Homo sapiens: one gene and its partners. The protein of the gene in region 3 purifies or fractionates together with the protein of the main gene of each other region. This does not show direct contact. Each region holds a gene or a part of one and is shown on either strand. Other genes may lie near its edges.

Region 1 (3,500 bases), on a different chromosome or scaffold from region 3:
CCTTCCAGGCCATTCCTGGAGGGTGAGGGCCAGCCCGGAGGGAGCCCCGGGGGGTGTGGGGCCATGTGCAGCCTGGCGACCTGGACCTCGGACCTCAGGAGTTGGGGACAGGGACACAAAGTTGGCCCCGACCCCGGCTCCCACGTGGCCGCTGCTGGCTGCACGTCCTCCAGGCACGGCCAGGAGCTCACCGTCATGGAATGCGTGAAACCCAAACCCAGCCTGGTGGAAAATCTGTTTTTAATTTTGGGCCAGTGTCGCTGGGAGCCTGGGCCGAGTGTGCTATGGGTAGGGGCTGGGGCCACGTGTCCAGCTTGGCCGCATGGGGGGCTGAGGCCTAGCCAAAGACTGTGACCCTGGACCCCCCACTTGTGCAAGGGGACCCACGAGGCAAAGGTAGGGGGACCCACTTCCCAGTGGCGGGCCCCTGACATGGGGGTGGTGGTAGTGGCTCGCACACGCCGAGCCCACCCTGGCCTCCCCAAACAAGTCTGGGCCCTAGGGATCCCGCCCCTTTCCTGACCCTGGCCCAGGACACCTGGGGGGTTCTCACAGTGCTGGGGGCCAGAACCCCTCGGTCTGCACTGGGGTGTGGGACCCCAGCCAGCCTCTCAGACACCCCCAAACCTTGTTGCTTCCTCTGGAGGAGGGGCCTTGGGAGTTCCAGGGCTGGAGTTCAGCATCCGTGGAGGCAGGTGGGGGTCACTCCCCTCCCACTCCCACCTCTCGCCTGCCACGTCCTCCCGGAGCCCCGTGCTGCTGCCATACGCACAGGCTCAGGCCAGGGCCTGGCTGGTCCCTGCTGCCAGTGTATCTTCGGCATGCAGGAGACGTTTGCCGCCTGGACCCTGTGCCAGGCCTTGGCTGACACTGTCCCCGGGCCAAGAGTGCCCTCCCCCACCTGTTGCGGTACCCACGATGCTCCCCACAACGGGAGTTTCAGTGACCGCCTCATTCCTCTTCCTGCCTCCCACAGCCTCCGAGCTCACGGGGCCAGCACTGTGGGCACAGGGGAGCCCCCGACCTAGCGCGGCCGAGCTGTCTGTCCAAGCCTGGGCCCCAGCACCCAGCGCAAGCTGCTGCTAAGATGCCCTGGAAGCTGATGCTCCCAATTAGCCCGGAGCCCAGCCAGGACCACAGCCGTCAGTGTGGGGACTCCGTCCCCATCCAGGAAGCCGGGGGTGACTCTGTCCCCACTGCAGTCAGGCTGTGTGGCCGTTACCATATTGTGTGTCTGTCACATGCCGGCACCTCTGGTGGGGTTCTGGCCCCTCAGTGGCCTCTGTGGAGCCTGTCCCTTTCCCTCCTCCAAGCTGTGTCACTTCCACACGGAGCTGGCACGAGGGGCGGGGCAGGGCTGGAACCCACCTTCTGCCCACCCCTTCTCTGGCCACCGGGGGCTGCTTCTCCTGCCACCCCTGCTCACCGTGCCCCGTGGCTGCACCCCTGGGGCTCGCTGGTCTCTCCCAATGCCTCGGGCAGCCATCATCCTCAGCTGTGGTCACGCTGCCTGGCCTGCCAGCTCACCCGCCCCCGCTGTGTGACTGTGGACTCTGGAACTCCCTGTGCCTAGCAGCGTGGCTCCAGGACACGGGCCCTATGTCTTCGCTTCCCTCCCTGCTCAGGGCAGACCCGCAGCAGTGTCCAGCCGAGGAGCGAGCAGCCGTGGCTGGAATGGCAGGGTGGTGGGATCGTGGCCACTGCCTGTGGCTGGGGCTGGAGGCTGCATCGGGCCAAACTTCTCATCAGAGTCCCTGTGAGCACCCCCCAGTGGGCCAGGGCCTCCTCAGCCCAGCCACGCGCCACGGTAGCCCACAGGTTGGTGGCACAGAGCGGCGTGTGGGTCCGTGGCGCAGGGTAGCGGGGTGGGCAGCTGCTCCCAGGCGTGTGCATGTAGAGCAGCCGCCTGTGTGTGTGTGGGGGGGGACGTGTGTTCCATAGGCCGGCCGTGACTTGCTGTGCACCCTCCCGAGTGGCATGCTTCCTCACACGCTGCCAGGCCCAGGTCCTGCCACCAGGTGCTCCGGGAGCCACCAGGATGCCCAGCAGCAGCCACCTGTGCAGGTGGCAGGCAGTGTGCCCTGCCCTGCTGTCATGCATGGCCCTCCCACCTTGGCAGCCTGGTGTGGTGTGGCCTGTGCTGGCGCTGAGCCTGGCATTGCGTTGGGGGGTGCCTGTGTCTGTGTGGCTGATGGGAGTCACGTCCAGACAGGGCCTGGAGGCAGAGTGGGCATGGCCAGGAGGCCGCGGCAGGCGTGGGGCACAGGCCTCACAGCTGCTCGTGCACGTCGTCTGCTCAAGTGCCCCGTGGGCCGTCCTAAGGCCTTGTGGCTCACTGGGCCCTCCCTTCTCCAAGCAGGGCTGGGTTGGGGCCACCCACCTGTGCAGGCAGCCAGGTCAGGTTGGGGGTCTCGCCTTACAAGTGCGGAGCCAGCCGAGGTTCACACAGAGCAAAGGCTGCAGCACCGGGTTTGGGCCTGGGTCTCTAATATCCTGGGGACATCCTGGAGGAGATGGCCTGTGTATGGGGACAATGGGGCTTCCCTGAAGGGGAAGGCTCCAGGCCCAGGGACAGCATATGCCTGGGTGTAGAGGCCACAGAGCCCTGCCCCGAGCCACACCCCAGCCCTGCCCGCTCCTCACCAGCCAGTGCCCCAGGCATCCCTGCCAGGCCAGGGAGGTCTTGCTCTGGCCCAGGGTATACTGGGATCCTATCGGTAGCAACCTGATCTGGGACAGAGTAAGGCTTCAGGCCCCGGCTCTCTGGCTGGCTGGGTGTTTCCAGAGTTGGTGGGGTTTTGGGGGCTGCATTTTGGGGGCTGCGGGGCAGTCGGGGGAGTCTGGGCTCACGGTGGGAGGGGGCATCCCCCATGGATGCCGTCTGTGGCTGTGGGGCTGCAGGGGCTTGGAGAAGGAGGGGGTGGCCCAGGGCCGAGACCAGGAGCCCTAGGGTGGGGGCAGGGGGACTGAGGCTGCAGGAGGGGGTCGCCCCCAGCCCCCTTGGCACATGTGTGGCAGTTGAGTCCTCTCCGTGTGCTCCGCGGAACCCAGCGTGCAGTTTTCGCCTCGCCTGACCGAGCCCTTACATCACTTCCACCACAGACGGAAAATTCCATTTGGTCAGAGCCCAGCTGCTGATCAGACAGTTCCCATTCTTTCTCTGAATGGGCCAGGGAGGGGCGGAGGGGCCGCCAGCCCGGTGGAGAGAGGTGGCTGGGCCACCGTAGGAATGCCGCTGGCCCGGTGCCCCGCAGGAGACCGTCTGCTGGGAATCTGGCTTCGGGAAGTGGGTGCAGAGGCCAGGCTGGCCACGGCACGCTCCCCGCAGACAGCTGGGCTCAGGCCTGGCGCGTTGGGTGCCGGGGCTCTGACGTGGGATGAAGCAGCTGCCCGGTTTGCTGAGCACCCTGACACCCAGGCTCTGCATGCTCGCAGTGGTGGGCTGGGACCCGGGCAGCCCAAGTGGGCTCCCTTTGAGGGAGGCGCCATCTCCTTCCTCA
Region 2 (3,500 bases), on a different chromosome or scaffold from region 3:
TGCGTTCATTTTAGTTTTGGCTCATGACTAGCATAATTTCACCAAGAAGTTTTCAAAAGAGCTCCACATGATTCATCCCTGATCTTTAATCAGGGATGAATCATAATTATTTCCATGATACAGTTTTGTTATATTAAAGGAAAGGAGAACTAATGAATATTTTCATAGAAGTAGAGAATTTCTGTCCTCCCTTCCCTTCTCCCCACCAAAGGGGAGTCTTGAACTATTAGTTTGCTATGTGAGGTAAAATTCTTTAATTTAAATTACAGCCATATGGCAAATATCCTAAGAAAGTAGTTGTTATTTTTAAATTTCTTTATTGTATAATATTAGTATACTAATTGCAAACATTATTCAAATGTGATAGAAGTTTATATGGTAAAAAGAAAAAGTTTCCCCCATTCATTTTGGGCTCTTTTCTTTGTCTTGAGGCTCCTTTCTACCTTGTACTCCTCAAATTTTCCAGATATAAAATAATTTGATAGTTTGGTGTGGATCATTCCAGATTTTTTCCCCTGTACTTTCATAAACATATAAAATAGATAAATTTTATTAAATTTGATAATACTGCTCATGCTATTTTTTCTTTAACTTGAAACACTTAATATTATGTCTTTCAGTCCTGCCTTAATTTTGCTGTTTGCCCTCGGATCTCTGGGTTTGATTTTTGCGTTGATTTTAAACAGACATAAGTATCCCCTTAACCTGTACCTACTTTTTGGATTTGTGAGTACTCTGACTTTCTCTATTCCCTTAACAATTATTCCTGAGTTTTAAATAAATGCATATATAATACATATATAACAACGGCAGAACAAAATTAATGAGTTTTTTTTAGAGTACTTTAGGAAATTAATTGTAATTTTATAGTCTTTTAAAACTTTTAACAGTTTATTAGTTTCAAATATTAGTATGTAGTGGAAAAAATGCTGAATTGGAATAGATGACCTGGCTTTGCTGCTATCTGATTATGTGACACTTGGCAAGGCATTTATCCTTTCTGTGTCTAAGTTTTTTCATATGTAAAATGAGAATTTTAAAGTAGATAAATCCTTGTGATACCTTCTACCTCTAATATTCTATTATTTTCTTTGGAGAAAATTATGTTGTGGCTTTAATTTCATAAAATTCAAATTCTTTATTGTTAACTCTTCTTTGTTATTATCTTATCACTCTGATCTTTTAAAGAACCATTTTGCTCAAATTATGTGCATTAGTAACTTTTTTCAAAATTATAGTTGGGAGAACCCAACTTTAAGTCATGTATGTTGAGATATTTGTGAAAATTAAAACCCAAACTACCACTTATGAAAATTCAGTTTAGAATATGACCAGAATAAGGGGATAAGCCTCAAGTTATCTGTCTAAAAAATTATTTTGCCTCTTCTCATCCAGTATGACTAGATTCTAACCTAAAAATTTACTTCAGAACATTCCAAAGTAATATTAAGAATACTTGGGTGGGTGCAGTGGCTCATGCCTGTAATCCCAGCACTCTGGAAGGCTGACGTGGGCAGATTGCTGGAGTCCGAGAGTCTGAGACCAGCCTGGGCAACATAGTGAGACCCCACCTCTACAAAAAAATACAGAAATTAGCTGGGCATGGTGGTGTGCACCTATAGTCCCAGCTACTTGGGAGGCTGAGGTGGGAGGATCACTGTAACGGGGTTGCGGGGTGGAGGCTGCAGTGAGCTGAGATCACGTGACTAAACTCCAGCCTGAGTGACAGAGTGAGACCCCATCTCAGACAAACAAAAAAAGAATACTTGTAGTCAAATACGAGTGGGAAAAGCTATTGATTAGATTAAAATGCTTTAAACTAAAAAGTTTATGAATTCTGATAATGAGTTTGTGTTAAAATGAAAAGCTGATGACTTTGAAAGTTTCAGTAATAGGAAAGATTATTCATTTAAATCTTAAGCTCTTTTGTTTGCAAGATTGTCAATTCTAACTCAAGTTATTGCAAATAACAAGGAGTTTAAGGATGTAAGAGCTTGAGAACCCACCAACCCAAATCCTCTTCAAGAAGATGAACTGGAGAACTGGAGGAAGATTCCAGAAATGATGATATCATAGGAAATTCAGTGACAAATGTTTGTGTTCCCCTCTCCCTTGTTCTATTACATCTCTTCTCTACCTCAGTTGTCCTTATACATTGTTTTCCCTTTTTCTATCTTTAATTTTTATATGACCCATTGTTTGCCCCCAGAGTCATTTAACTTTAGCTCCCACTGCCATTGCTTCAATCTCTGAGTTCAGATTCCTGAGTCAGAAAGAATCTGGTCCAGGCGTGGTGGCTCACGCCTGTGTGATCCCCGCACTTTGGGAGGCCGGGGCAGGCATGTTGCTTGAGTTCAGGAGTTCGAGACCAGCCCGGGCAACATAGTGAGACCTTGTCTCTGCAAAAAATACAAAAATTAGCCAGATGTTATGGCACGTGCTTGTAGTCCCACTACTTGGGAGGCTGAGGCAGGAGGATCACTTAAACCGGGAGGTGGAGGTTGCAGTGAGCTGAGATTGCGCCACTGCCCTCCAGCCTCAGTGACAGAGTGAGACCCTGTCTTAAAAAGAAAGGGGGGTGGGAGGGAGGAAGAAAGGAAAAGGAAGGAAGGAAGGAAGAAAGGAGAGAGAAAGAATCTGATTGGTACACTTGGTTGTTGGCACAGGTCACATTGTAGGCTGTTAGTCAATATATGGGTTGCCAGGCCTTGGGTAAGAGCCAACTCCTGGCCTAGTCAGCTATGTCTCAGGAAAGAGGAAGTATAAAAAAAAAGACGGCCATATAGAATTCCTCTTCGCATCTACATGTAGCCTCCTCTCAGAAAGACTGATTTCTGTGTGGGAAGAGGGTGTGGTTCAACTTTTGCCCAGCAGGGAGAGGTCCCACTAGAAAAGTATCAACCAAATGCTTATAGGCAAGATAATCACTGATTGTTAAATCTATTCATCATGCCCATAGCTAAAAATGGTTTAACAAATAAGTATGTACAATACATTTCCTTAAATTACTCAGGGACCTTTAACGTTAGGAGTTTTTTGGTCCTGATCCACCAAGATAAGAAAGGAGGTGAATCTTATCTTGCCCTAGTAGGAGTGTGTGTGTGTGTGTATGCATGCACATAGACAGACAGACAGATAGATAGATAGTCCTCAACTTAGAATCATTCACCTTAATGTTTTCCACTTTTATGATGGTGTCAAAGCAATATGCAACCACGAAATTTCAGACTTTAAGCATTGGTGATTCTTTAACCAAAGACACTCTGAGCTACATTTTTTACTTACGATATTTTCAACTTACAGTGGGGTGTATTGGCATGTAACCCCATTGTAACTCGAGGAGCATGTGTGTATATGTTTTAAAGGGACATTATCATGTTTTCCTAGTCTTATCTTAACTCTTATTTATACCATCCTGTTTCCTTAGATACTTGAATGTGTATGGGATTTCTTTCCTAAAATCTTGTCATAAATAGCAAGAATATAGTATAATCATGTTG
Region 3 (5,211 bases):
GAGAGGATGGAGAGGGGAAGGAGCGGAAAGCAGTGTGGGGTGAGGTTTAGGGAGGTCATTCGCCCACTGCAGTGGCTAAGTCAGTAGAGGAGAGAGGCAGTAACTGGTACTAAGGGCCAGGGTTCAAAGCATTAAACCTCATGCCTCAAGGTGGTGTTTCTCACTCCTGAGCACTAGTTAAGGCAAGGATTTCGAGCCCCACTCCCAGAGTTTCTGATTGGGTAGATCTGGCTGGGGCCTGAGAATTTGCACTTCTTATAAGTTCCAGGCGGTGCTGGTGCACACTGGTCGAAGGCAATGCGTGGGAAGTTTTCCTCTTTAATTGTAGAGTGACACCAACCCATGTGACCACTCGGGCCAGTCTTGCTTGTGACAGTTTTTTCTGCCATCAGGAACAAAGTCTGCCCAAACCTTCCCAGCTTCTGCACCAGGGAAGTGGCTACCAGGGAGCAGCTTCGTGTTTAAACACAGCCCCATCTCGTGTAGTGTTAGAAAGGAATGGCCGCAGGCCGGGCGTGGTGGCTCATGCCTGTAATCCCAGCACTTTGGGAGGCCGAGGCAGGCAGATCACTTTGAGCTCAGGAGTTTGAGACCAGCCTGGACAATGTGGCGAAACCCCGTCTCTACAAAAAAATACAAAGATTAGCTGGGCATGGAGATGCGTACGTGTAGTCCCAGCTACTCGGGAAGCTGAGGCTGGAGAATTGCTTGAGCCTGGGAAGTGGAGGTTGCAGTGAGCCGAGATCATGCCCCTGCACTCCAGCCTGGGCGACAGAGTGAGACCCTGTCTCAAAAGAAAAAAAAAAGAAAGACAGTCATGGCCCTGATTGCAGAGAGCTGCAGAAGGTGGAAGGTTCAGTAGCCCCCAGTGCGTCTGGTGGCCTTCCCCCTCTGGCTCAGTGGGCCATGGCCGGCAGCGACAGTCAACAGTGCTACCTGTGCGTTAGCAACAAGTATGGCCTCATTATTTAAAAACTTAGTTATTCCCATTTCACAGATATTGGGGTTTTGTTTTTAAAAATTGATGTAGATCTAGGCCAGGCATGGTGGCTCACCCCTGTAATCCTAGCACTTTGGGAGGCTGAGGTGGGCAGATCACATGAACCCAGGAGTTCAGCACCAGCCTGGGCAACATAGTGGGACCCCAGCTCTACAAAAAATCAGAAAAAATTAGCTGGGCGTGGTGTCATGTGTCTGTAGTCCCGTCTACTCGGGAGGCTGAGGTGGGAGGATTGCTTGAGCCTGGGAGGTCAGGGCTGTGGGAAGCCGTGATCATGCCACTGTACTCCAGCCTAGTTGGAGTCTCAAAAAAATATTCATATAGATCCAGTCCACCCTGGCAGCATTCATTTTCCTCCCTGAAGGTCTGTATGTTTCAAGAGATGTAAGGGGTTTGTTAAAAGGAAATTGGAGGAAGGGGTTCATACCACTGAAGGTTAGTGCCTAAGAGAGGGGCAGGAAGGGGGCCCTGGAGCTCTTCGCTTTACCCTGTGAATGTTCTTGACCTCTGCTGCCCTTGTGCTGCGTCCTTCTCAGTCCACACTTCTGCCTCTTGCCGTGCGTCTCCACTGCCTGTAAAACAAAGTGAACACTGAAGCCTCCCACTAGGGTCCATTGGCTGATGCGTTTCCATTTCCATGGGTTTTCTAACTTCTGGATGAGAGAGTACATTCCTGCAATTGCTAAAGCTAAGTTTCCTATCTGGATTGTAGACAGCTATGGGCAGTAACATGGGCTTTGTTATATTAGTAATAGGGCCCCGGCCAGGTGCAGTGGCTCACACCTGTAATCCTAGCACTTTGGGAGGCCGAGGTGGGCGGATCACGAGGTCGGGAGTTGGAGACCAGCCGGCCAACATGGTGAAACCCTGTCTCTACTAAAAATACAAAAAATTAGCTGGGCATGATGCCGCATGCCTGTAATCCCAGCTACTTGGGAGGCTGAGGCAGGAGAATTGCTTGAACCCAGGAGGTGGAGGTTGCAGTGAGCTGAGATGGTGCCATTGCACTCCAGCCTGGGTGACAGAGCAAGACTCTGTCTCGAGAAAAATAATAATAATAATAGGGCCCCATAGGTTTATTCAGAGAGACTGAGAAAGCTGGAAGAGATTAGCTTTTCCCAGTGTGAGTCATTGCCTCAGGTAGCCTGGAAAATCCTAGCAAACAAAAAGAAGTTTATACAACAACATTCTTTTCATAGCTGGTTTGTATGCATGGCGTCAAACCTTCACCTCTAAAATGTGAACCTTCAAGAAAACAGGATTTCAGGGTTTACTGGAGGGAGGGGATTAGCCTAGGTCTGAGGGAAGAAGAACCTGGAAATGAAGTCAGTGTTTAAAGCTCCTTATATTTACCAGAGTAAAAAGTTGAAAAGTTTCACTTTTGGAACTTTTTAGTCTTTTGTACTGATGCCAGAGTGATCTTTCTGAAGTGTATGTGTTGTGCTTATTCTTTACTGTTAAAACGATATCATGGTTGAAAACTATTAGCTAATTACTGAGTGTTCTTGTGTTCTTACTGTTTTAGTAAAATTAAAACGATTTAAGTATTTGCGTCCCTGCCTCCTCCCATGATTTTCATTGTATTTCTATCATATCATGCTATATCCTTCTGCAAATATCCATACATAACCAGTTAAATGATTTCAGAGGTAGCGAGTCTAGTTGCCTCTGGAAAATTCAGTAGCCAAGCCATAGTGTATTTGCATATTGTAAATGTGAAGTGGATGGGTGTGAGGAATGAATCATATATAGTACAGGACAGCGTGATGCTACAGAGTTGGGCTTTGGAGCATTTGGAGCTGGGTCAGCCCTGCCTCGCTGACTGCTGGCCTCCCCGCCTCTGCATTTTCTCGGCTCCACCGCAGTCAGGGCGAGCCATCTGCTCATGGAGGTGGCTAAGGGCAGAAGGGAAAGCCGCATAAGGCACTTTGCATGCCGTGAGTTCCCAGTCTACAGCAGCTGATGCTACAGCTTCTAAGCGTGAAATCCACATCTAGTTCTGAGTCATAAAGAGTTTCGATACAATCATAGGAACATTCATCTACATACACTGTGATTTCATGAATTTCAGTTTGTTGAAAATCAGGCATCAGTGGAAGGGAGACTGGCCCCGGGGTTAGAATGTCCTTCCAACTGGCTCCTCATGAGGGAGCTGTGGGACCTTCAACCTCTCAACCTCCAGGAGCTCTTCTTTCCTTGCTCATATAACCAGGGGGTTGAGTAGGTCCCCTTGAAAGTTATTTCCAGCCCCCCGGTTCTGTGAGCATATTGTACACACTAACTAGGTTCAGATCAACTTCGGTTAGACTATTAGAGGGAGGTGCACATGTATCCCCCACAGTGGAATCTCATTGGTATTTCATATAATAAGTGATTGACAGAAATAAGGATTTCATTGGGATAAAATCCTACCTGGTCCTCTAAAATAATGATTGCTCAACCAGAGCATACCTTTTCACTATTTGGGAGGGAATTTTTAATCACACAAAAAGCACATACATATCATTCAGGTCATGCTAACCATGTGTATGGAACTAATATTGCTTTGAAGTACTATTTGCAATATATAGAATTTCACACAAAAAACCTACTAGTGCAAAGAGTGAGTAATTCAAATGCATAGTGTTTCCCTAGACTTTATTTTAGTGAATGGGGTTGCAAGAGCAGTTAGTAAGTAGCCATGTTTTAATGTTTTGAGTTCTGTCGTGTTTTATTTTACCAGCAAGTGCCAGTGCTAGTGAGTCTCTAGAAACAAGAGAAAATCCCAGAGTACTAAAGCTGCAGTTTCCAGAAGCAAGGTCTGATTCACCCTTACTTTGTAGATGAAGGGGCAGGAGCTCAGAAAGAAAGGAGCTCATTGCCTGACCCAGGTCACACGGTCAGTCGGTGGTAAAGTAGAGCTCTGACCCAGGCCTCCGGGCTCCAGCTCCTTTCACTGGATCTGGCTGCTGCCTCAGAAGCAAGGGCCTGGGTGATCAGCAGGTTGCACGGTTGAGCTGTGAGAGACCAGAGTCCCCACGCCTGTGGATGACCGGTGGTCCCCTCCATGAAGCCAGCCGCAAGCAAGCAGCAAAGAGCAGAGCTGTAACTTGACTGTTGGCCCCATGGGGATAGAGACCTTTTCTGCTTGGTCTCCAGTGTAGCTCCAGCCCCCTATCCTCGTGCCTGTTGCAGAATAGGTGCTAAGTAAATATTTGTTGACTGAAGGATCATAAAAGAAACCTCCCATATCGGTGATGGAACATTTAGTTAGCATGGCTTCTTTCTTCTTGAAGGTTCTTGAGCACGTGCCCCTGCTGCTGTATATCTTGGCAGCAAAAACATTAATTCTCTGCCTGACATTTGCTGGGGTGAAAATGTATCAAAGAAAAAGGTTGGAGGCAAAACAACAAAAACTGGAGGCTGAAAGGAAGAAGCAATCAGAGAAAAAAGATAACTGAAGGTGAGTCCACAGTACCCAACCTTGCAAATGGGAGCTGGCCAGTGGGTTGGGGTGACCAATCAATGAACAAGAGAGGTCTGAGACCTCCCTGTCCGTCGGGTCTGAAGGGCTGCGTGGGGGCATGTGGCCTCACCTGTTCTCTAAGGTAGAACTGCTCCATAAAGGGCCAGGTGTGCAGATCCTGGTCCTGGGATGTGAGTGCTGCTGAGCCAAGGTGCACGGAGCATTAGTTCATCCTTCTTGAAACCTGCGGTGGCAATGGTTCTTGACAGGTATTGGGTTAAGAATTGAGGACTCAGTGACAGCTGTGGACCTTCTTCCCAGAGAAGCACACATACTGAAACCATCTGCATTTGTGTGTGGGGAGAAGTTTGCAGATGTGGGGAGTCACAGGTCATTTGAAATTCCAAGATTAAGAAACCCTGTTACCTTTAAGATAAAGTCTGACTCCATGGTATGACAAATAAATCCCTTCCCAGTCTGGTCTTAACCCAGACCTCATTTGCCACATGTGCCCACTCCCCATCCCCCTGCAGGCCATTCCTCAGCCACCATGGCCTTTGGCCTTGCTTATTAGGTTCTTCCCAAGGACCTCCTCACCAGGCCTGAGGGTACACTCATCGTTGTCACCCAGTGCCTATCACAGTGCACACTGGTGGGCTTAGAACACACTTGGGGAGTTACAATACATCAAGGCACCAGAAAGTTCCTGTTAAGCCCCTGTTACAGATTTAACACATGACAATTCACAGTTACCTTGATTCCAGTG

What was found.
Region 1: the proteins of SMIM11 (region 3) and TTYH3 purify together in Homo sapiens (affinity purification with mass spectrometry; one large-scale study listed by BioGRID and IntAct). This does not show direct contact.
Region 2: the proteins of SMIM11 (region 3) and TMBIM4 purify together in Homo sapiens (co-immunoprecipitation; one large-scale study listed by IntAct). This does not show direct contact.

What each region holds. Positions count from the first base shown.
Region 1 is NC_000007.14:2,638,486-2,641,985, forward strand, and holds part of TTYH3 (protein tweety homolog 3), read left to right. Parts: intron 1-3,500. UniProt on the Homo sapiens protein: Calcium-independent, swelling-dependent volume-regulated anion channel (VRAC-swell) which plays a pivotal role in the process of regulatory volume decrease (RVD) in the brain through the efflux of anions like chloride and organic osmolytes like glutamate.
Region 2 is NC_000012.12:66,149,497-66,152,996, reverse strand, and holds part of TMBIM4 (protein lifeguard 4), read left to right. Parts: intron 1-620; coding exon 621-726; intron 727-3,500.
Region 3 is NC_000021.9:34,381,203-34,386,413, forward strand, and holds part of SMIM11 (small integral membrane protein 11), read left to right. Parts: intron 1-4,275; coding exon 4,276-4,440; 3' UTR 4,441-4,442; intron 4,443-5,211.